Linked DNA regions of Homo sapiens: regions 1 and 2 are each linked to region 3. The links come from fine-mapping of genetic effects on plasma protein levels. A gene starts in region 3. Each other region holds a variant in brackets. All regions are shown on one strand. Distances are from middle to middle.

Region 1 (7,496 bases), 17 kb before region 3:
CCACTAGCATGGCTATAATAAAAAAGACTATATAAATGTTGTATCTTTAAGTGTTGACAAAGATGTGGAGAAGTTGGAACTTTTGTATGTTGCTAGTAGGACTACAAAATGGCACAGTCACTTTGAAGGAATCTGTATGGCCTTAACTTATCTTCATGTGGGTGTTATTTTCAAAGCTTTGCCAGGTTCTATCTTTATCAGTCCAAGAGAAAGGATGGCTGATGTTCTGTGCCCATCTCTCTTTCCACCTCAGAGAATAATTGAGTGACGTCACTCCAGGTAACATTCTTTCCTGATTCTTTCTCTCTCTGGGAATCTCTCCTATTATGCTGTCTTTTACATGACATGTTACTGTAGGGGAAGGGGGAGGTTTCTCAGAAGACCTATGTGCAAAGTCCTATCAAATTCTAAGACTCATCAAGTCAATTAAATAATTGAGACTCTCACTTGTCCTTACTGTTTTTATTCTGTCAAACTCAACATTGTAATAATCAGACTGACAGCCAAGATTGAGGATCAAAACAAATATTTATTATAAATTATAGTCATGGATTTAATTTTCTAGAGAGGCTTGGAAACTATCTCTTATGAAGGAAATAAGTAAAAGCAGATTTTTATTTAAAGATGGAAGATATAATCCTCCCCTAGATGTATTCCATAACATCATAATGTTGCAGTAATTAAACAGTTTGACCAGATATTTTTCCTTTAGGCTCAAGAAATTATTTATTGTTACATTCAGTTAATAATATTGCATTGATCTCATATCAGTCGTACGTTCAAGGTAGAATTTGGAAATCGCAATCTTCCTGTCTTTCTTTTCCTTTCCTGAGAGATTGCTCAAGGGTGACAGGCTTTGCAAGACACATTTCCTAAGATCAAACCAATCTTGATGTTAAGGTCTTTATGAATTATCATCAGATTGAATTAAGATATCTAGGGAATTAATGGAATGGAATTGAAAGTCCAAAAATATGTTCAACTGATTTTTTTTTTTTTTTTTTGAGACAGGGTCCCTCTCTGTCCCCAGGCTGGAGTGCAGTGGCATGATATCGGCTCATTGCAACCTCCACCTCCCGGGCTCAAGCAATCCTCCAACCTCAGCCCCCTAAGTAGCTGGGACTACAGGCATGCATCACCATGCCTAGCTAATTTCTATGTATTTTTTGTAGAGACAGAGTTTCACCATGTTGCCTAGGCTGGTCTTGAACTCCTGGACTCAATCGATCAGCCTGCTTCAGCCTACCAAAATGCATGGATTACAGGTGTGATCCACCATTCCTGGCCTGTAAACTGATTTTTGACAATGGTGCCAAGACAATGAAATAAGGGAAACAATATTTGAACAAGTAAGTGCTGAGACAACAAGATAGTAGCATGTAAAAGAATGAAGTGGAATCACTTCCGTACATCATGCATAAAAACTCACCCAGAACGGATTATAGACCTAAAGATAAGAGCTGAAACTATTAAGAATTCTTAGAAGAAAACAAAGGAGCCAATCTTTGTGACCTTGGCTTCTTAGATATGACACTAAAAGCACAAGAGACAAAAGAAAAAAGATAAATTGAACTTCATCCATATTAAAAACTTTTGTGCTTCAAAAGATACCATTAATAAAATGAAAAGACAATCCATAAAATGATAAAATATATTTTCTAATCATATATCTAATAAGGGACTTGTATGTGGAATATATAAAGAACTCTTAAAACTCAAAAACAAGACAAGTAACTCAATTAAAAAGTGGCAAAGGTATTAGCAATAACACAGACCAAAAAGAAAAAAAAGTGGCAAAGGATTTGAATAGCAATTTCCCCAAGGAAGTTGTACAAATAGCCAATGAGCATTTGAAAAGATATTCAACGTCATCAGTCATTAAGAAACTGCAAATCAAAAGCACAATGAAATGCCACTTTACACCCACTAGGATGGCTATAATAAAAAAAAAGATTATATAAATGTTGTATCTATAAGTGTTGACAAGGATGTGGAGAAATTGGAACTTTTATATTTTGCTAGTAGGACTACAAAATGGCACAATCACCTTGAAAACAGTTTGAGAGTTCCTAAAAATGTTAAAATAGAGTCACCATGTGATCCAGCAATTTCAATTTCACTTCTAGGTATATACCCAAGAGAAATGAAAGTATATTTAATGCAAAAACTTGTACACAAGTGTTCATGCCAGCATTATTCATAATAGCCATAAAGGTAGAAACAATCCAAATGTCTATCAATTGATAAATGGATAAGCAAAATGAGATATATCCATTCAGTAGAATTTATTTAGCAATAGAAAGAAATTAAGTACCGATATACGCTACAACATAGATGAACCTAAAAGCACTATGTAAAGTGAAAGAAGCTATTTACAAAGACAACAAATTCTATGAGTCTCTTTATATAAATAGGCATATATGTATGTCCAGAATAGGCAAGTCCATAGAGATAGATAAATGGCTGTCTAGGGCTGGAGTTACGGGGGAGAAATGGGAGTGATTGCCAACGGGTATGAGGTTTCATTTTGGGGATGATAAAAATGTTCTGAAATTGTTTGTGGTGATGATTACACAACTATGTGAATAAACAAAGAGCCACTGAATCATATACTTTAAAAGGGTAAACTTTATGGAAATCAAATTGTGTCTCAATGCAGCTGTTATAAAAAAAGATATCTGAGGGACTGGCAGCAATTTAGTAGGTGAGGTATTTATATTAAAACATGCCAGACTTTTTCTAGTGGGCACTGGGTTAAGACTGAAGGAGTAAATTTCCATGCAGAGGAAATGCAGTGTTGTGACGGGGAGTACAGAATTTGCAGCCAGATTGTCTGGATTTTAATCCTGACATGACCTCTTATTAAGTCATGGGATCTTGGGAAAATTATTCTGCGGCCTAATGTCCTCATTCACGAAATGGGAATAATAATAATGGTACTATGTTTTAGAGTTGTGGTGATTAAATATAAGCTTTAACAGGGCCTGGTACATAATAAATCACAGTAATGCTATTAGGTTGGTGCAAAAGTAATTGCGTTTTTTTTTTCTCATTACTTTTACCACAATTACTTTTGCACCAACCTAAATATATAAGTATTTGCTGTTATTATACAGGCTACAAAATTCAAAGCATAACCCTCTGGAGCTGACTTAATTTCGACTCTTTCTGTTTCCAAATGAGTGAGTAATCACATGAAAAAAAGGAGCCAAAATTTTAATAAGGAAAAATGGATTTCTAAGGCGTAGATTTCAGAGAGATAAAATACAGAGGAAGAATAAAATATTTGTATTTGCCTTCTCTTACAGCTACACTTTAAGAATTATTATCTTGTATCTATGAAATATGATTAAATATACCCAAGAAAAAGGCAAGATGTCTGCATTCACCTTTCGAGACTTATAATTAGGAAATTCTCTAGCTACTAAATTAACTATTGAGTTACTAAGGATGTTAGCATTGAGTGGATCCCATTTTTCTGGCCTGAGTTACATTATAATAATTCAGTTCCTTGTGATGGAAGAATGGACAGAAAG[A/G]TTGAAAGAGTATTAGCCAGAGGTAAAGTTATTACCCAGTGATGGGAAGAGTGAGATAGATAGCTGAGAGCCACCTTGAGGATAAGGGCCTCAATTAGAAAATATCTTGGAGGAAAAATTGCACAGGATGGTTAATGTTGTTGGGTTAGCAAGAGGAGCAGCAGGTCAGGATTCCCAGGTGGGGCCAATCTGTTGATTAGTGATATAGTGGTACTAAAGCTGTTCCCAGGGAAGGTTCTCTGAGCACTAGGAGGATCCATCTTAAGATGTAGGTCCTTTACATTGGCTAATTTATTTTGAAATGTCTTACTTTACCCCTAAAAATCTTTCAATAGGCACTTCTGACATTCTGATTAGCATTTATTCTTCAAGACTGAAGACAAAAGTTTAGATTTAAAAAAATGCATTGGATTTAATACTTTATGTGGTTGCCAAGTTTGCAGGTTAGTTTTATCATTATTTATATATCAATGAAAGAGACTGATTTGCCTTCCAGATTAAACGTAAGATGTATGACTCACATTTTTTTTTTTTGTCTCTCATAGGCACTGACTTTTTGTTATTATATTATGGTAGCTTTCATTTCCTTTACTCTTTTTTTTTTATTATACTTTAAGTTTTAGGGTACATGTGCACATTGTGCAGGTTAGTTACATATGTATACATGTGCCATGCTGGTGCGCTGCACCCACTAACTCGTCATTTAGCATTAGGTATATCTCCCAATGCTATCCCTCCCCCCTCCCCCAACCCCACAACAGTCCCCAGAGTATGATATTCCCCTTCCTGTGTCCATGTGATCTCATTGTTCAATTCCCACCTATGAGGGAGAATATGCGGTGTTTGGTTTTTTGTTCTTGCGATAGTTTACTGAGAATGATGATTTCCAATTTCATCCATGTCCCTACAAAGGACATGAACTCATCATTTTTTATGGCTGCATAGTATTCCATGGTGTATATGTGCCATATTTTCTTAATCCAGGTATGACTCACATTTAACAAATCATAGATGAATGAGGGTTAACCTGGTTATTGCTTTTTTTTTTTTTTTTTGAGATGGAGGCTTGGTCTGTTGCCCAGGCTGGAGTGCAGTGGTGCCGTCTCAGCTCACTGCAACCTCTGCCTCCTGGGTTCAAGTGATTCTCCTGCCTCAGTCTCCCAAGAAGCTGGGATTACAGGTGCATGCCACTACGCCCCGCTAAATTTTGTATTTTTATGCGGATGGGGCTTCACCACGTTAGCCAGGCTGGTCTTGAACTCCTGACCTCAAGTAATCTGCCTGCCTAATGCCAAAGTGCTGGGATTACAGGCGTAAGCCACCATGCCCAGCCCTTTTGATTGTTCTGTTGGATTTATTGTCTTGTGAGGGATCATTTTAAGGCTAGTTTCTAATTAGGCCTCGGTCACAATGAGTTGTTTAGGTGTCTACATTATAACTGCAGCATAAAACTCATGTTGGAATGACCTGTATGCTACTTGGTTGCTCCTTTGTTACCATAAGGAGAAATAAGCAATAAAATAAGGCTTTAAAAGATACGATAATACAAAAGATGTGGCAAAACATGTAGGTCTATTCTAGAGTAAGATGATAGAAAGGGTGTTTTAGAAATTATCTGTAATTATATCTTGTCAAAGGGAGATTAGACAGAAATTCAGAATCATCGGGGTTTCAACTGACATGGGGAGAGCCTACAGTGTGGGTTCTTGGATGTGCCCCACACTTCCCCTTCCAGACCCTGAAAACCTTTTGGACTGCTTGAAAAGTCTATAATAATAGACTTAAAATAATCTTAAAAGATTATTTTAAGGTATTACATAAACTGAATACCATTATGTTAATTATCAGATATATTTCTATAGGCATTTTCTGTTTCCAGGTGTATAAGAAAAACACACACTACCAATAGAGAAGGAGAATTGTGTAAATAGATCAAACTAGCAAACACACTTAACTACTGTATTAGTTCATTTTCACATTGCTATGAAGAAATTCCCAAAGCTGGGTAATTTTTGTTTTTATTTTCTTTTTCTTTTTTTTGTTTTATATGGACTTCATTATTTTTTAGTAAAGAATTAAATAAAATGTAAGTTTTTTTATTATACTTTAAGTTCTGGGATACATGTGCAGAACGTGCAGGTTTGTTACATACATATACATGTGTCATGGTGGTTTGCTGCACCCATCAACCCGTCATCTACATTAGGTATTTCTCCTAATGCTATCCTTCCCCTAGCCCTCCACCCCGCTCAAAAGTCCCCAGGGTGTGATGTTCCCCTCCCTGTGTCCATGTGTTCTCATTGTTCAACTCCCACTTATGAGTGAGAACATGTGGTGTTTGGTTTTCTGTTCCTGTGTTAGTTTGCTGAGAATAATGGTTTCCAGCTTCATCTATGTTCCTGCAAAGGATATGAAGTCATCCTTTTTTATGGCTGCATAGTATTCCATGGTGTGTATGTGCCACATTTTCTTTATCCAGTCTATCATTGATTGGCATTTGGGTTGGTTCCAAGTCTTTGTTATTGTGAATAGTGTTGCAATAAGCATGCATGTGCTTGTGTCTTCATAGTAGAATGATTTATAATCCTTTGGGTATATACCCAATAATGGGACTGCTGGGTCATATGGTATTTCTGGTTCTAGATCCTTGAGGAATTGCCACACTGTCTTCAACAATGGTTGAACTAATTTACACTCCCACCAACAGTGTAAAAGCATTCCTATTTCTCCACATCCTCTCCAGCATCTGTTGTTTCCTGACTTTTTAATAATCGCCATTCTAACTGGCGTGAGATACTACCTCATTGTGATTTTGAGTTGCATTTCTATAATGACTAGTGATGATGAGCTTTTCTTCATATGTTTGCTGGCCACATAAATGTCTTCTTTTGAGAAGTGTCTGTTCATATCCTTCGCCCACTTTTTGATGGAGTTTTTTTTTCTTGTAAATTTGTTTAAGTTCCTTGTAGATTCTGGATATTAGCTCTTTGTCAGATGGATAGATTGGAAAAATTTTCTCCCATTCTGTAGGTTGCTTGTTCGCTCTGATAGTTTCTTTTGCTCTGCAGAAGTTCTTTAGTTTAATCAGATCCCATTTGTCAATTTTGGCTTCTGTTGCCATTGCTTTTCGTGTTTTAGTCATGAAGTCTTTGCCCATGCCTATGTCCTGAATGGTAATGCCTAGGTTTTCTTCTAGGGTTTTTATGGTTTTAGGTCTTAGGTTTAAGTCTTTAATCCATCTTGAGTTAATTTTTGTGTAAGGTGTAAGGAAGGGGTCCAGTTCCAGTTTTCTGCATGTAGCTAGCCAGTTTTCCCAACATCATTTATTAAATAGGGAATCCTTTCCCCATTGCTTGTTTTTGTCAGGTTTGTCAAAGATCAGACGGTTGTAGATGTGTGGCGTTATTTCTGAGGCCTCTTTTCTGTTCCATTGGTCTATATATCTGTTTTGGTACCAGTACCATGCTGTTTTGGTTACTGGAGCCTTATAGTGTAGTTTGAAGTCAGGTAGCATGATGCCTCCAGCTTTGTTCTTTTTGCTTAGGGTTATCTTGGCTATATGGGCTCTTTTTTGGTTCCATATGAAATTTAAAGTAGTTTTTCTAATTCTGTGAAGAAAGTCAGTGGTAGCTTGATGGGGATAGCACTGAATCTATAAATTCGTTTGGGCAGTATGGCCATTTTCATGATATTGATTCTTCCTATCCATGAGCATGGAATGTTTTTCCATTTGTTTGTGTCCTCTCTTACTTCCTTGAGCAGTGGTTTGTAGTTCTCCTTGAAGAGGTCCTTCACATCCCTTGTAAGTTGTATTCCTAGGTATTTTATTCTCTTTGTAGCAATTGTGAACGGGAGTTCACTCATGATTTGGCTCTCTGTTTGTCTATTATTGGTGTATAGGAATGTTTGTTATTTTGGCACATTGATTTTGTATCCTGAGATTTTGCTGAAGTTGCTTAT
Region 2 (7,496 bases), 32 kb after region 3:
AGAATGGGGTGGGGGAATGCATGGGGGGACAAAAAAATCTCAAAGGATGTGTGGGTGGGTGGGGGGAGTGGGAACTGTACCAAACATAATACATCCTCTTCCTTCTGCAAGTTTGAAGGCTTGGGAAACATTTACATGGTAAGTTAAACACCCCTGGGCGGTTTATCTTATACATCTGGCACTTGACACGGCAGACACGTTTGGGTTTAAGTGACCTACAAAAATGTAGAGGGCATTATTTTGTAAGGAGAAACTACCCTCCAGTAAGTTCTTCTCCCCTTTAGTAGATTTGTCAAAAGGGAGATGCATTTCAAGTTCAGACTTGCGGGCATTCTCTCTGCATCTCTCTTCAATTAGTTTGGTGTTTATTAAAGAAAAAAGTGGCTCTTGTTCAGTATGTTGGAATCTCTTACTGTCTTTAATTTGGTTTTCTGCTTGCTAATGCAGAACTGGAATTTGTCCTAAATTCCTGTACCAGTTGGAAAAGCTTTCAATATCCCTGCTGCGAAGCATGTAACAAGGCTTACTGCTCCTCTTTTGGTACCAAAACAATATCATTGTGTTGTTGACAGGACACATGGCTTGTTTGTCCTGTTTCCCATTGCTTTCTGCAATATTTCCCATTGTTTTCCGCAGGGGACTTGCAGAGTTATTATTGTAAAGTCATTTATATTCTCAGTCTGGATTTAAATATTCTAAAGGAAAGAAACCAATAATTTGAACAATTTTAAATTCATATGCAGATATTGAGGGCTAAAGAGTTTGGGTAGAAAATCTCCTTTGGCCAGAATTATTGAGATTCCTATTTTAGTTTTCCAGTCAATTTGAAGATGTGTAAAAAGAGTTTTATGGAGGATGTTATTTTTTCAATCAGATTTGCTCTTAGCTGAGTTTTGCTCTCAGTGGATGAATCAATAATTTTATAAGAAACATTATTATGTTTTTTTCATGCAAATGGTTGTTTACCTAAGTCTCTTATAGCAGACGATTCAAGATGTTTGGACTTCCTTGGGAAGTTGAGAATCAGACTGTTTTTAAAATATGAAGACAAGATTGTGGAGTAAAGAATACTGAAATGAAGAATTACCTTCAGTAACAGAAAAACAATAACACATTTACTATGTGCTAAGCACTTTATATTTTTATTAATCTTCAGATGTATCTACTTATAAGTAGATTCTATTATCAGTTCCAACATATACATGATGAAAATGAGGTCTAGTAAGTTCAAGAAACTTCACACAGTAAGTGGTGGAGTTAGAATTTGAACTTGGGCCATCTGACCCAAGGATCTGATGGTGCTTGCTCTTTAAAGTGTGGTCCCTGGATCAGCAACATAGGTATCACCTGGGAGCTTGTTAGTAATGAAAATCTTCGGCCCTGTCTCAGACCTGCTAAATGAGAATTTGCAATTTTAACAAATTCCCCATATGATATCCGTGTTTGAAGTTTGGGAAGTACAGCTGTAGTTCGTATTCCCTACCTATCCTCATGTAATATAACTTCCATTTAACTTAAATTACATGAAAATATTATTGACATTGTTAATATGAAATATTACTAAACTTGATTGTGTTTATTAAAAACATTGCTAATACCTGCTTTGTAACACTTAGAACGAGGGCAGGACCTTGTCTGTTTTATTCATTGTACTTAGTGGATATTACTTAGAAAAATATTTTTGAGACCCCCCCATCCCTCAAAAAAATTTCCATTTTTTTTTCACTGCTCAAATCACATAGACTTTAAAAGGCTATGTTCTTATGTGTATTAAGAGAGGATGTTGAAAAATAGCCTTCCCTTCAAATTCTGTGTGTAAATCTTCCATTTGTTGAGTATCTGTGAAGCACTAGCCTCCTGTATGTTACCTCAGGAAATACCCAGAGATATAGGGAGATATTTCTGTCATCATTTATAGACATGGACATTTTAAGTTTAAGGTTTGATAAGAAAGCATTACTAAATACATTATAGATGTTGCGCTTGTTAAAGTCAGAGAATAATGTTCATATTGCATCAGTTTTCTTGTTACCCTGGGAAATAGATTGATACTTTTGGAAAAGTAGCAAAATGCTTCAGAGATCTGAACTTGCAGTCTGACCCAGTTGTTAGAATCATGGAAATAATGACCCTGGTGATATGTGCTTGTGACTATTTTCTATTTTAAATTTCACAGCGCTGGGATATGAAGCTTCGTCATCTTGGACTCAGTAAAAGTGATTCTAGCAATAGTGATTCCACTCAGAGTCAGAAGTCTGGCAGGAACTCGAACCCCCGGCAAGCACGCAACTAAATCCCGAAATACAAAAAGTAACACAGTGGACTTCCTATTAAGACTTACTTGCATTGCTGGACTAGCAAAGGAAAATTGCACTATTGCACATCATATTCTATTGTTTACTATAAAAATCATGTGATAACTGATTATTACTTCTGTTTCTCTTTTGGTTTCTGCTTCTCTCTTCTCTCAACCCCTTTGTAATGGTTTGGGGGCAGACTCTTAA[G/A]TATATTGTGAGTTTTCTATTTCACTAATCATGAGAAAAACTGTTCTTTTGCAATAATAATAAATTAAACATGCTGTTACCAGAGCCTCTTTGCTGGAGTCTCCAGATGTTAATTTACTTTCTGCACCCCAATTGGGAATGCAATATTGGATGAAAAGAGAGGTTTCTGGTATTCACAGAAAGCTAGATATGCCTTAAAACATACTCTGCCGATCTAATTACAGCCTTATTTTTGTATGCCTTTTGGGCATTCTCCTCATGCTTAGAAAGTTCCAAATGTTTATAAAGGTAAAATGGCAGTTTGAAGTCAAATGTCACATAGGCAAAGCAATCAAGCACCAGGAAGTGTTTATGAGGAAACAACACCCAAGATGAATTATTTTTGAGACTGTCAGGAAGTAAAATAAATAGGAGCTTAAGAAAGAACATTTTGCCTGATTGAGAAGCACAACTGAAACCAGTAGCCGCTGGGGTGTTAATGGTAGCATTCTTCTTTTGGCAATACATTTGATTTGTTCATGAATATATTAATCAGCATTAGAGAAATGAATTATAACTAGACATCTGCTGTTATCACCATAGTTTTGTTTAATTTGCTTCCTTTTAAATAAACCCATTGGTGAAAGTCTTTTTTTTTCTCTTCTTTTAAAATAAATCAGAATTGCCGTATTGACCAGGAAAAGATTATGTATGCACGTGCACCAGGGTTAGTTTTTAAAAGTACATGGCTCCATAAAAATGCTGTAGATTACAGAGTGATAAAATATGCAGGTTTTTTTGTTTTTGTTTTTTCTGTTGTGTGTGTGTCTGTATTTGTGTACATGTGTGTCCTTGCACTCACACCCAAGGTGGATTAAAATACAGGCCTGCAAACTGGCCTGCACTTTATCATTTGGATTTGTGCTGCTTAATGCTCAGCGAAAAATGTCTAGTAAAATGAATTATGGTTGTCAGGAGAGAGGTTATTTCGACTTTTGAACCAATTGCACATTTCTCATTACCCAAGCTGTGGTGAGATCCCAGGGGCTGTGGTGAACAAATGATGCTTTTATAGATGGTCCCTAGCTTACAATGATTCAATTTACAATGCTTCAATTTAACAATTTGTTGACTTACAATGGGTTTATCAGGATGTAACCCAATGCATTTCAACTTACGATATTTTCAGTTTCGAATGGGTTTATCCAGATGTAACCCCATCGTAAATGGCGGAGCATCTGTACTTCCTTCCTCTGGCAGAGTTCCTTAGAGCCTGTGCCAATTACTTGAAAGTTTCATTCTCTGCCATTTACATGTGTGCTATTAGTAGAACCAAATTTCTAAGCTGTGGCGTGCTGAAAATAAAATGCTTATGAAGCAAAAATCGTGCTATGTTTCCTTCTACAAGGATAATCAAGCAAGGATGAAATTCATTCCTGAACAAAAGTTTCCTAAAATGGTAAATAATCATCTATCTAAATGTTCTATTTTAAAAGTGTGAGCTGGGTGTGGTGAGTGCACCTGTAATCCCCACTACTTGGGAGGCTGAGGAAGGAAGACGGCTAGAGCCCATGAGGTTGAAGCTGCAGTAAGCTATGATTGCGGCCACTGTACTCCAGCGTAGGCGATAGAGCATGACCCTGTCTCTGTAACAACAACAAAAGTGTGAAAGTTCATTCTACAAATTGGAGTCACTCATATCATACCCAACTAAAATGGAGTCGGGAGGCCATGGGGAAAGGCACCCAGGTCCCTGTTCCAGGAACCATTTTTGCAGTTCAACAGAAAAATCACGAAGACCTAACTCTAACCTTAAGATAAAGTTACCTAGCTGCTGCCACTCACCAATCAGAACTTGCTAGATCCTACAAGACGCGCCTGGCTCCAGTGAACTTTCATTCAAAACCATTTAGATCACCTTCCTCTCTTCCCCAATAAAACCCCAGCCTTTCTCTTTGTTCTTTGAACACAACTAGAGGCTACACTGGTTTGTGTGCCCAGAATTACAATTCCAATTCTTATATTCCCAAATAAACCCTTTACTTGGAGATTTATCTCCCTATATTTAAAGGTGACAGAGTAAGGGAACATTCCTGCCTTCTGATTGACTCTCCAAAGCCAACAATTTCCCCAGCCCCAGAAGAAAACATTCCCACCTTTGCCTATAGGACTGCATAGTCTTTTGAGCTTCCAAAAGACCACTTCCAAAGGGCTTGCCATCTGCCCATTGTTGCTATATTCTCAGATGGCAAGGACATCTCTTTTGAGGTGCTGATGTCCTACCCTTAAAAGGTGAGTTGGGTGTCACTGGGGAGTAATGAAGCGCCACCGTGGATGGACTGCCCCTGAGAATCTCTCTTCCTGGTATGTAAGCCTCAACTTGAGCCTGAGGACAGAGGGGTGGAAAGTAGTGCTGGTGCCTCAGCCTGTTTTCCTCAGGCTTTCTCACGTTAACTCTGTAAAGAAGGACAAGAATTGACTACAGGAGAGGTTTAAAGGAACCGTTATCTCAAATCCACAAACCTCAACTCTCTCAATGCACAGTAAGCAATGTTAAGTAAGGAACTCTTTTGATGTATAAAAGCTGCAGATGTTTCCAGCTTCTGCAGTTTTTTTTGGGGGGTGGGGGTTGGGTAAAGGGGGTATGATCAGTTTCTGTGTAGGAATTTGACACACTTTATGCTTAATATAAACAAAACACGGCCAGATTCTTAGATTCAGCAGTTTTTTTTTTTTTTAAACCACCTTCCATTCGGTGCCATTTTACAACCTACTGTTTTACCACTACCATCTATAGTGGCAATGTTTGATTTTGCTCACCTATATGAGGCTTCTGTCAGCTGTTTAAACATTTCTAATGGTATAAAGCCCATGAATAAAGTACATTTGGTTTTTCAGTTTGATAGCTACAATATCTTCATTAATAAACTGTGCAGACCTCTTTTGGGAGGATGGCGTGATTTATCATGATGGTCACGTTTCTCAGGAGACTGCAAAACCATTTCTACTCTAGTTGCCATAGTACAAAGACACCTCGTTAATGCCTCTCTATAGGGTTTTCTTGCAGATAGTAACTTTTAAAGCCACTAAAAATTTAATATACATGCATCCTTGTCAGTAACCTTGAGATTGATAAAATTTATATTTCTTTAAAAAATTTTATTCAACTTTAGGATTTTAATTTTCTTAGCCAAATTAAAGTCAGATGCATGCTGAATAAAGTAGCAAATACTTAAATAGCAGCAAACATGGATTCTCTTTTCATGGATATGTATTTTACTGTGTCACATACAATGTAATCTGATTCAGTGCCATATGTTGCACCCAGCATTCAGGGATGGGGTGAGACAAACTGTCTTTCCACATGTGTTACACATTAAGAAGGCAAAAACAAAAGTTATAATCACTGTGAGCAAATAGCACTACCTATTGCCTTCTGCAAGAAATTATTTGCTGTTACATTTCAACAAGTAAAATGACTAAAGGTATTTCAAGATTGACATTTAGCACTGAGTTTTAACATATTTTAATACACAAAAATTCAAGAAGATGGTAAAAATAAAGCAGAGACTTCTAATATGGTGTTACTGAAATCCAGCCTATAAAATTTAAAAGTATGGTACCCAGATGTATTAATATTAACAAAAACAGTATAGTCATACCTTTCATAATTATCTGTTTGGGGTAATAACATCTAACAGTGGCTGGAACTCTATATGAAACACTTGTGCATATGTTACCTCACTTATTCCTTGAAAGTTGTTGAAGTAGATGTTTTATTCCCATATAACAGATTTTTTTTTTTTAAATGAGTATTTAGAACTTCAGAGTTGTGTAAGTAGCAGAGCTGGGCCTTAGATCCTCATAATCTTATTTCCCAAATTATATGTTTTCCACCACTGCAATTTCTGATAAAAAGGTAAATGCATCCTAGCACTGTAAAAAAAGAAAAAGCATAGTGTCAGGCATATAGTGGTAGCTATTGCTATTATTGGATTATAATAAATAATAATATAAATATAACAATAGCTATTATTTCTTAAACTGAGGTCTACCAACTATGTTAGAAAGCCTATATAATATAGGCCCAACTCTAATCCAAGATACAGTCACTTCACATCTTCAGGTGTCCTCCCTTATGAAATCAGAATTTCAGTAGAATTATTTCCATACAGACAGGCAGGTGAATTAAGTAATTTTGGGGGCATTAGTTGTTTAAAAATGTGTGACTCTCAGAAAAGCATTTTTCAAGGTTTCTGTTTTCCCTTGAATTTGTAGAAAAGTAAACAGTTAATTGTATTCAACAACACCTGGAAGAAAGTTGAAATTAAAAGTTGATAATTATTACAAATAAAACGAGAACGACTACTTCCACTGGGAACTCCCATTTCTCCTTTTTAGATTATGCCCCCTATGTTTCCCACCACCAGAGTCCTCCATAATCTAGAAAAACTATTCCACCTGACCTAATTCCCCCTGCTTTTCATTCATTAAGTATTTTCACTATGACAGGGATTCAACATGTTAATACAACTAAATATGTTTTTCTTCCGATGAAATGCAAACGTTTGTCATGTTTCTACTTAGGTGGTTGTTGAGAACTTGAGGAGTTGTCCCATGAAGAAGGAAAGGTTGTGCTCAAGGAAATTTGTCCAAAAAAAAAAAAAAGGATTTGTGGGCTGTTGAGGAAACTGACACAGAAATGAAAGAAAATGCGGGAAAGAATTTTCTACTCACCACAGGGATGTGGAGGGGAATGACCCCACTCATTACACAGTGGTACTGTGGCCACTCTTGCAAACAGCCACCACCTCCCTCCCCACACACTTAGCATCACGATGTGAGGTTGATGTTATGATTGCAGGGTTGGACTTAGGATAGTCTGGGGCCTCAGCAAGGGTGGGTCGGGTGATGTCTGAAACATAGGATAGCTCTGAGATGTTAAGAAGTCAATGAAACAGGGAACAAAGGATTTCTTGTTTATACTGGGTGGTAAATCCAATAAATAAAGCA
Region 3 (7,496 bases):
AAGAAAATGTGGTATATATACACCACGGAATACTACCCAGCCAGAAGAAAGAATGAAATAATGTATTTTGCAGCAGTTTGGGTGGAGCTGGAGGCCATTATACTAGGTGATTTAACTCAGGAATGGAAAATGAAATACTGTATGTTCTCACTTATAAATGAGAGCAAAGCTATGGGTACAAGAAGGCATATCTTTGAGAGGTATAACAGACTTTGGAGACTCACAAGTGGGGAGCTTGTGAGTCTACTAGGGAGGCTGAGGCAGGAGAATCTCTTGAACCCGGGAGGTGGAGGTTGCAGTGAGCCAAGATAGTGCCACTGCACTCCAGCCTGGGCAACAAGAGCAAAACTCCATCTCAAAATAAATAAATAAATAAATAAAGGAATAATTTGTAAAAACAAACACTGTTCAAGGGTAACTAACCAGAAAAATGAACACAACTAGACAAGGTACTCAAAAGGGCTTCCTCAAGACAGTGACATTTATTTTGGGCTTTTATAAAAACAAATTTGGATTAAAGTTGTAAGGGGACCTATTAGACAAAGAAGATAGCTGACTTTTGTGCAGGGGAAGGAAAACAGACTTTGTTTCAAATAGTTGTAGAACCTTTAAAACTATTGGCACATTTCTTCTCACACTGTAAGACTTAAGATGAACAGAAAAATGTATTTAGCAAACAATCTACTACATCTACTCCTGATGTTTTTTCTTCTAATTATTGAAAATCTCAGCTATATTTTTCTTATACAAAATAGTCCCAAAATGTTCTAATGTTGACTGTCTTTTAAAGTTGTTTTTCCTCTAAATTTTACTTGATAAATCATTTTAAATTCGTTTGTACAATTTTTGAATTTGTTCTCTTACATGACACTAGATAATTGTAGACCAGGCAAAGTTTGTATACTAACTGACTCCCTGTCTACCATCTGGTGTTCCCCGCCCCCGCCACCATAAGTGGAACAAACTTCCTTCCAAAAAAATTTACAGCAGTCACAAACTGCTGTTTATGATCATTTTAGATATAAAATTCCATAACTCAAGTTAGCATTGACATTTTATAAGTGCTGTCAAGTCACTCTAGGGAATGAAAATGAGCATCTCACTATGTGCTCTGAAGTGGGGACATATTTCTCTGCTTGTTATGGACGGTGAGAGATGGCTAAATTGAAGCAGAGAAATATTTCAGTGATGCAGAGCAAAGGTGACTTCCTGTTTTGTTTCAGGTTTTGTTTCCTTCTCCTCTCAATGAAGGCTGTGTTTTCTGACATTCGGCAATCCTTTTGCTCAGTGATTTCCCATTGAGAGGGCATAGTGTGAAGGCCTCTGCAGGTCATTCCATTTACAATATAAGCTGAAAGGGTAGAGTGGGGCGGGGGTGGGGGGAAGAGGGAGCTCATTAGTGGAAGAAGCAGACCAGGAGGGGATCTGTTTTCCATTTTCTCCTCCAGATTGAACTCATCTGGATGGAAAGGTTTTGATTGTTGTTATAATCATCATTATTACCTGCGTGATGTCGTTTTCCTACACTTTTTTTTTAAGTGTCGGGCAGAATTGTTGCTGAGAATAACAAATAATATCTGCCATGTTATCCGTGAGCAAAATCAGAAAAAAAAAGTCCAAGTGTATTAGAGCTGTTAGTTTCCACGTTAACCCTTAAGGAGCAAAGCTCAAGAGTTCTAATTCCACTAGGTGGGGGGGGCGGGAATAGAAGGAAAAAACCCCTTTTCCTTGCTTCTGGTGGCCTATTTGTAGTCATGAACAGCATTTCTTTGTTTCTCTCTCTCTTTTTTTTTTTTTTTAAAGGCAATCCTCCCCCCACCTCCTCCCCCGCAGTTATTGAAAATGGAGACCTCTGTAGTCACTAGCTCTGGGTTGATATGGCTCCACCGTTGCTCGCAGGGGTCTGTGTTTTCCGCTACTTGGACAAAGTGACATTGCTTAAGCCTTTCCCCCCACCAGGTCTGACTTTCTGCAGAGCCAGTGATTGCAGAGGAAAAGCTGTAGTTTGCTTAAAGGAAATACCTCCAGGAAGGAGGGTCTCGGGTGGGTTCCCAAGTGGGGAACTAGGGGGACTTTTCCGTAGGGAATTGGGGTGGGCTCTTCAGTGAGGGGCTAGGGGCTCGTTTCTGGGGCCAAAGACGGGTTCCCTAGTGTGAGGGCGCGCTCGACTCGGCGCTGTCTTGGGGTCTCGCACTCGCACGGCTTCGCACCCCACCGCCTGCGACTCCCAGGCCTTCTCTTCCCCGGGCGCCCACTCCATTCTCGGGAAGAGCAGCCGGCACTGGAGGGCAGAGACTGCCCCAGGGGCGGAGCTCCCTCTCAGGCGGGAGGTAGGAAAGTGCAGAGCCGCCCGGGCAGAGGCACAGACGTCCCTGCGGGGCTCCTCCTGAGCGTCCCTCCTGCCAGCCAGGGTCGCAGCCGCAGCGGCGGCCGCAGCTCTTAGCCCACACAGGACTTGTAAACTCTTACTGCACCCTTCTCTCCCATTAGGAGCTTTTCCTCCCTCCTTCCCCCCAACCCCTCTGTCCTCCTCACTTTGGGGAATTTAATGCTTTCTTTAGCATCTTTTTGTGTGCGTGATCTAGGGGAGGAGACACCCCAGAGCTCCAACTAGCTCTCAGCTGAATTCTACTTTTGTTTTTATGTCTTCCTCGCCTCCTCTCGTGTCCCTCTTATCTGACTGATCTGCGAAGTCTGATGCTTCTGCCAGAGGGAGAGGAATAAATAGATGTTGCTGCTTCCGAAGGCTTAGACGTTGGGAAAGAGCAGCCTGGGCGGCAGGGGCGGTGGCTGGAGCTCGGTAAAGCTCGTGGGACCCCATTGGGGGAATTTGATCCAAGGAAGCGGTGATTGCCGGGGGAGGAGAAGCTCCCAGATCCTTGTGTCCACTTGCAGCGGGGGAGGCGGAGACGGCGGAGCGGGCCTTTTGGCGTCCACTGCGCGGCTGCACCCTGCCCCATCCTGCCGGGATCATGGTCTGCGGCAGCCCGGGAGGGATGCTGCTGCTGCGGGCCGGGCTGCTTGCCCTGGCTGCTCTCTGCCTGCTCCGGGTGCCCGGGGCTCGGGCTGCAGCCTGTGAGCCCGTCCGCATCCCCCTGTGCAAGTCCCTGCCCTGGAACATGACTAAGATGCCCAACCACCTGCACCACAGCACTCAGGCCAACGCCATCCTGGCCATCGAGCAGTTCGAAGGTCTGCTGGGCACCCACTGCAGCCCCGATCTGCTCTTCTTCCTCTGTGCCATGTACGCGCCCATCTGCACCATTGACTTCCAGCACGAGCCCATCAAGCCCTGTAAGTCTGTGTGCGAGCGGGCCCGGCAGGGCTGTGAGCCCATACTCATCAAGTACCGCCACTCGTGGCCGGAGAACCTGGCCTGCGAGGAGCTGCCAGTGTACGACAGGGGCGTGTGCATCTCTCCCGAGGCCATCGTTACTGCGGACGGAGCTGGTGAGTTTTGACACGGCCCACCCTTCCCTTACCCTACAGCCTCCTCAATTCTTGGAGTCCTTGTTACTAGCCTTTACTCTCTAATTTTTTTCTCTTCGGATCACTTAATCTCTCCCATAACTGCTCCTCTATCAAAGACCCTTCTTCTTCTTTCTTCTTTTTTCAAAAACAAAAACAAAAAAACCCTCACCTTATCACCTTCCAAACTGATGCACTCTGGCACTGTGTTCCAATAGGCGATCTTTCTAAAACAATCCATGCATTCCAAACCCATCACACTTCTACTCCACAGGAATCCTTCACTTCAACTCCTTACATGTGCAAGTAGCCACATTTTGTAAAGTGATGCTCTTTTTCTTTTAAAATGTGTTTATAATCATTGGGTTTTCTTTGCTGATTCTCAGGCAATCTCAGTCATCAGGTTTCTGTATCTTTAGTGTCTTAGATGCTTGTTAAGATTGTGTGGAGGAAACAGAAAACTGAAGCCCCATTTTCTTCTAATTAAAAATGCCAAGATAATTTCAATAACCTTACTCTAACCGACAGATGTTAGGGGTATGTGTTTGCTCAAGATCCAGTTTGAGCAATTACCTTCACCTTAAATTTCCCCCTCCTTTCAATGAGATAAATTGTTCTTCCATTCCAGAATGAAACAATTGTGAAACATTGCTATGCACTGTTAATTAGCTTCTGTGGCTTGCCATAGAGCTGGCAGACTGAAATTACTGAGCTCTTTTCACATGCCCACATGCCTTCAAGTCATTTTATAAGTGGCATACAGATGAAAGGAGTTATATTTAAGGCGTGTTATCATACACTCACGTAATGTTATTTTAAATCTCACCCCTTATTCCACTCTCATGTTTTGAAAAAAAAATTGTCTTTAATACCTTATTTCATGCTCCTTTTCCGTGTGTGCACCAACCACAGTCATTTCAGTCTTTCCCTACCATAAAACTTTATTGCAGCTCTAAATTTAATGGAGTCAATCACAAGTTGTTTTCTCACTAGTGTTTAGTCTAATTATGACATTTGTAACTTTAAGACCCCAACTAAACCTACTTCATTATGGTCCATTTAATTCTAACTCAGTATTACTTCTACCAACTAACCCAACCTCAAATTTTACCCTTCATATATTTTATAAAGAAGGCAATTTTTTTTCATGAGTGGTCCTCTTTCATACCACATCCCCCACCCCCCAACAACTCTGTTCTTAGATGTGTTGACTTGGTTGCCTCCATCTGTTTATTTCTTGGGCATCAACTTTCCTTCCTCTTTCAACTTGCGCAGTCTAGGCGCATGTCCCCAGTCCATTTCCAGGTAGTAATTCTTAGTTATCGGGAAATTGATTTGGAAAAATTACCTTCTGTGCACGTTGACTCATTTAACAAAGTGAGAGAAGGAGAAGTAATTGTAAAAATAGCTGAAGGAAAAAAAATAAACAGAAGAATTTCAAGAACTTTTTAATGGTGACCTCACTTAGTTTATCACTTTTTGAATATACCTATTGTCTTCTTGATTTTAATCAAGAACCAAAAGCTAGTTGTGCAAAATCATCACAGAAATGTATTTGCTATTAATCTTTGCTAAAAGAGCATGCTTGAGGCTTCGTACTCACTAAAGTCACAGACTGCAGAGTCTGGAAGTGCTCAGTGCAGTTGCCGCTCTGGTTTGCCAGGCACTTAGAATCAGTTAAATGCAGGTGCTCCTCTCAGGCCAAGGGCTAGGAATGAGGTGGCAGTGGTTCAGGCTGAAATGCATTCCTCCCCGTAAAGCACAAAACTTGCTCTTAAACCTCCCTTAGAGGTGGACCTAGAGTGAGTGAGGTTTGGCAAGGTTAATGGCTCTCAAAAAGCCATAGTCAATATGGATAGGAAGCAGTTTCATTAAGTGTCCCTGAGTTACCAATCACTGTGGAACAAACATGGAAACAGTTGCCTCATTGAAGCACTCAAATAGGACATGCATGGAAACAATTTGTCAGTTCATGGGACCTGATTTCTAAGCTTCTTTAAAATGCCAGAGTATTTGCTTTACTGGCAGCATCCTTGCTAGAAAAATAGGTGGTAGTTGGAATCATAGTTAGTGATGGCATCCCTGCTCCCTTCCATAAGCTTCAGTGTGAACCAGAGGCTATGATGGCAAGGGGAGCTCAAAGGTGGGGGGAGGTGGAAATTGGGAATGAAGTGTGTAGATTGTAGCCTGAAGGGTCTCCTGGCTTCCAGGGCCAGCTTGTTGAAAATTACATTCCCTATGCTGGGTCAAACTGTCAGACACCTGGAATTACTTAGGAACTACCACATGTGGCCAGTGTAATTTACCATGCAATATCCAATATACTCTTTGGTTCAGTGGGAAGTGATAGTTCACAAAGCAAGGTTTTTTTCTTATTCAACTGGGTATAAACAGAATCCCTGTGTCTTTTGACTAGTATCTGTCCAACTAGATATAAAAATGAGGTCTCCCTGAATAAAATAGGACAATCTTTCACATTCTTCTGATGCCAAGAGGATTTTCAAATCCTACCCATTCATGGGGATCTGTTCTCTCATAGTATATCATGACTCCACAAACAAGCTTAGGACCTTTTACAAAGCAGTCTTACTGAAATGGAGTAATGCTTGAAACTACTTTTTGCTTTCAAAATACTAAGGGTAATCATATTTTTGAAAAGAACGGGTTCCATCCTGACCATTATTATTCATCTTACACATTTTATATTTGCATAACTTTGTGTGACTACATGTACAACTGATTATCTGAAAACTCAGCTCAATTGAGTCATTCAGCAAGTTAGTGATGACATTCAGTCAAATCTTTAATATTGTGTGGTGAGTAAAGAGGATAGGCTTGGAGTGGGGCAGACCAGGTGTGAATGACTCTGCCCCGACATCAACTATTGTTATAGGAAAATTATATGACCTCTGTAATTCAAAGTTTTCTTATCTGTAAAATTAGGACAAAACTATCTACATCCCAAGGGCATGGTAAAGATGAAATTAAAGCTGGTGCAGTGGCTCACTCCTGTAATCTCAGCACTTTGGAAGGCCGAGGCGGGTGGATCACTTGAGGTCAGGAGTTGGAGACCAGCTTGGCCAACATGGTGAAACCCTGTCTCTACTAAAAATACAAAAATTAGCCTGGGATGGTGGTGCGTGCCTGTCGTCCCAGCTACTCCAGGAAACTGAGGCAAGGGACTCACTTGAACTCCGGAGGTGGAGGTTGCAGTGACCTGAGATGGCGCCACTGCACTCCAGACTGAGCGACAGAGCCAGACTGTGTTTCAAAAAAAAAAAAAGAAAAGAAAAGAAAAGAAATTAAACAGCATATAAAGCATTGCTTTAGTACTTAGTAAGCACTGAAAAAAGTGCTGCTGCTGTTTTACTATTATCACTGTTAAAACAAATTGACTAACATTTTCTATTTTGTTTTTGAAATGGTTATGTTGGTAAATGCAGATGCAGCCTAGAACTTTTATTAGTTCATCTCTGGGGAAAAACAAAACAAAAAAGCTTTACACTGGGACCTAACTGGAAAAACAAATCTTATTTCTTCTAAATATATAAAGTTAGTATTTCCTTTTACACAAATTGACCTAGACCTCAGGCTCAAGAGCAGATCCCCTTGGGAGCGACAGAAAAAAGAATGAGTCTGGTGGAGGAGTTAATTACAAATAATTCATCTCAGAAACCCAGGAATCAAGCAGTTAAGAAAATTTATGGTATGATATTTCACAGCTATTTCCACAACACCTACAGTTTGCCGTGCCAAGGGCTTTATAATCATTCCTCAGTCAGTGCTGGCTTCTGGGGCAGTGTTAACTTTTCTCCCCAGCTCTTGCTCAACACGTTTCTGCAGGCCTTCTCTCTCTTGGCATGAGCCGTGCCAACTTTCATATGCAGGAGCTGCCATTTAATCGTTTCTCCACTCTCAGAGAAACAGGCAGTCTTTTCTTTAGCCCTGTTCTACAAATATTTGAGGGGCCAAGTACCAAGAAGGAAGAATTATTTAGTGTGATATGAGGAGGAAAATGGAAAGGAGAA

Alleles and levels. Positions count from the first base shown, and alleles are read on the strand shown. Strength reflects both the effect of a copy and how common the allele is.
In carriers of allele G in region 1, the plasma level of the protein whose gene starts at base 2,888 in region 3 tends to be higher than with A alone (moderate association).
For the plasma level of the protein whose gene starts at base 2,888 in region 3, allele A in region 2 goes with a lower level than allele G (strong association).

The links. A credible set is the group of variants that fine-mapping cannot tell apart. PIP is the posterior inclusion probability: the model's chance that the variant is causal. The UK Biobank Pharma Proteomics Project read protein levels with antibody pairs (Olink). The fine-mapping took linkage between variants from a reference panel, not from the people measured, so its PIPs are less certain.
Region 1: its variant is the best candidate, but not a certain one, in a credible set for the plasma level of the FRZB protein (UK Biobank, PIP 0.58).
Region 2: its variant is the best candidate, but not a certain one, in a credible set for the plasma level of the FRZB protein (UK Biobank, PIP 0.76).

What each region holds. Positions count from the first base shown.
Region 1 is chr2:182,878,755-182,886,250 of GRCh38, reverse strand. No RefSeq gene overlaps it. Among named protein-coding and RNA genes, the nearest start is that of FRZB, 16 kb to the right of the region's middle. The variant A/G (reference allele first, on the strand shown) is at 3,537.
Region 2 is chr2:182,829,646-182,837,141 of GRCh38, reverse strand. FRZB (frizzled related protein) reads left to right here. Exons shown (of 6, transcript NM_001463.4): 6 at 2,177-3,867. The coding sequence ends at 2,293. Among named protein-coding and RNA genes, the nearest start is that of FRZB, 33 kb to the left of the region's middle. The variant G/A (reference allele first, on the strand shown) is at 2,505.
Region 3 is chr2:182,862,029-182,869,524 of GRCh38, reverse strand. It overlaps FRZB (frizzled related protein), which reads left to right and starts at 2,888. Exons shown (of 6, transcript NM_001463.4): 1 at 2,888-3,450. The coding sequence starts at 2,973. RefSeq lists an enhancer at 2,757-3,725.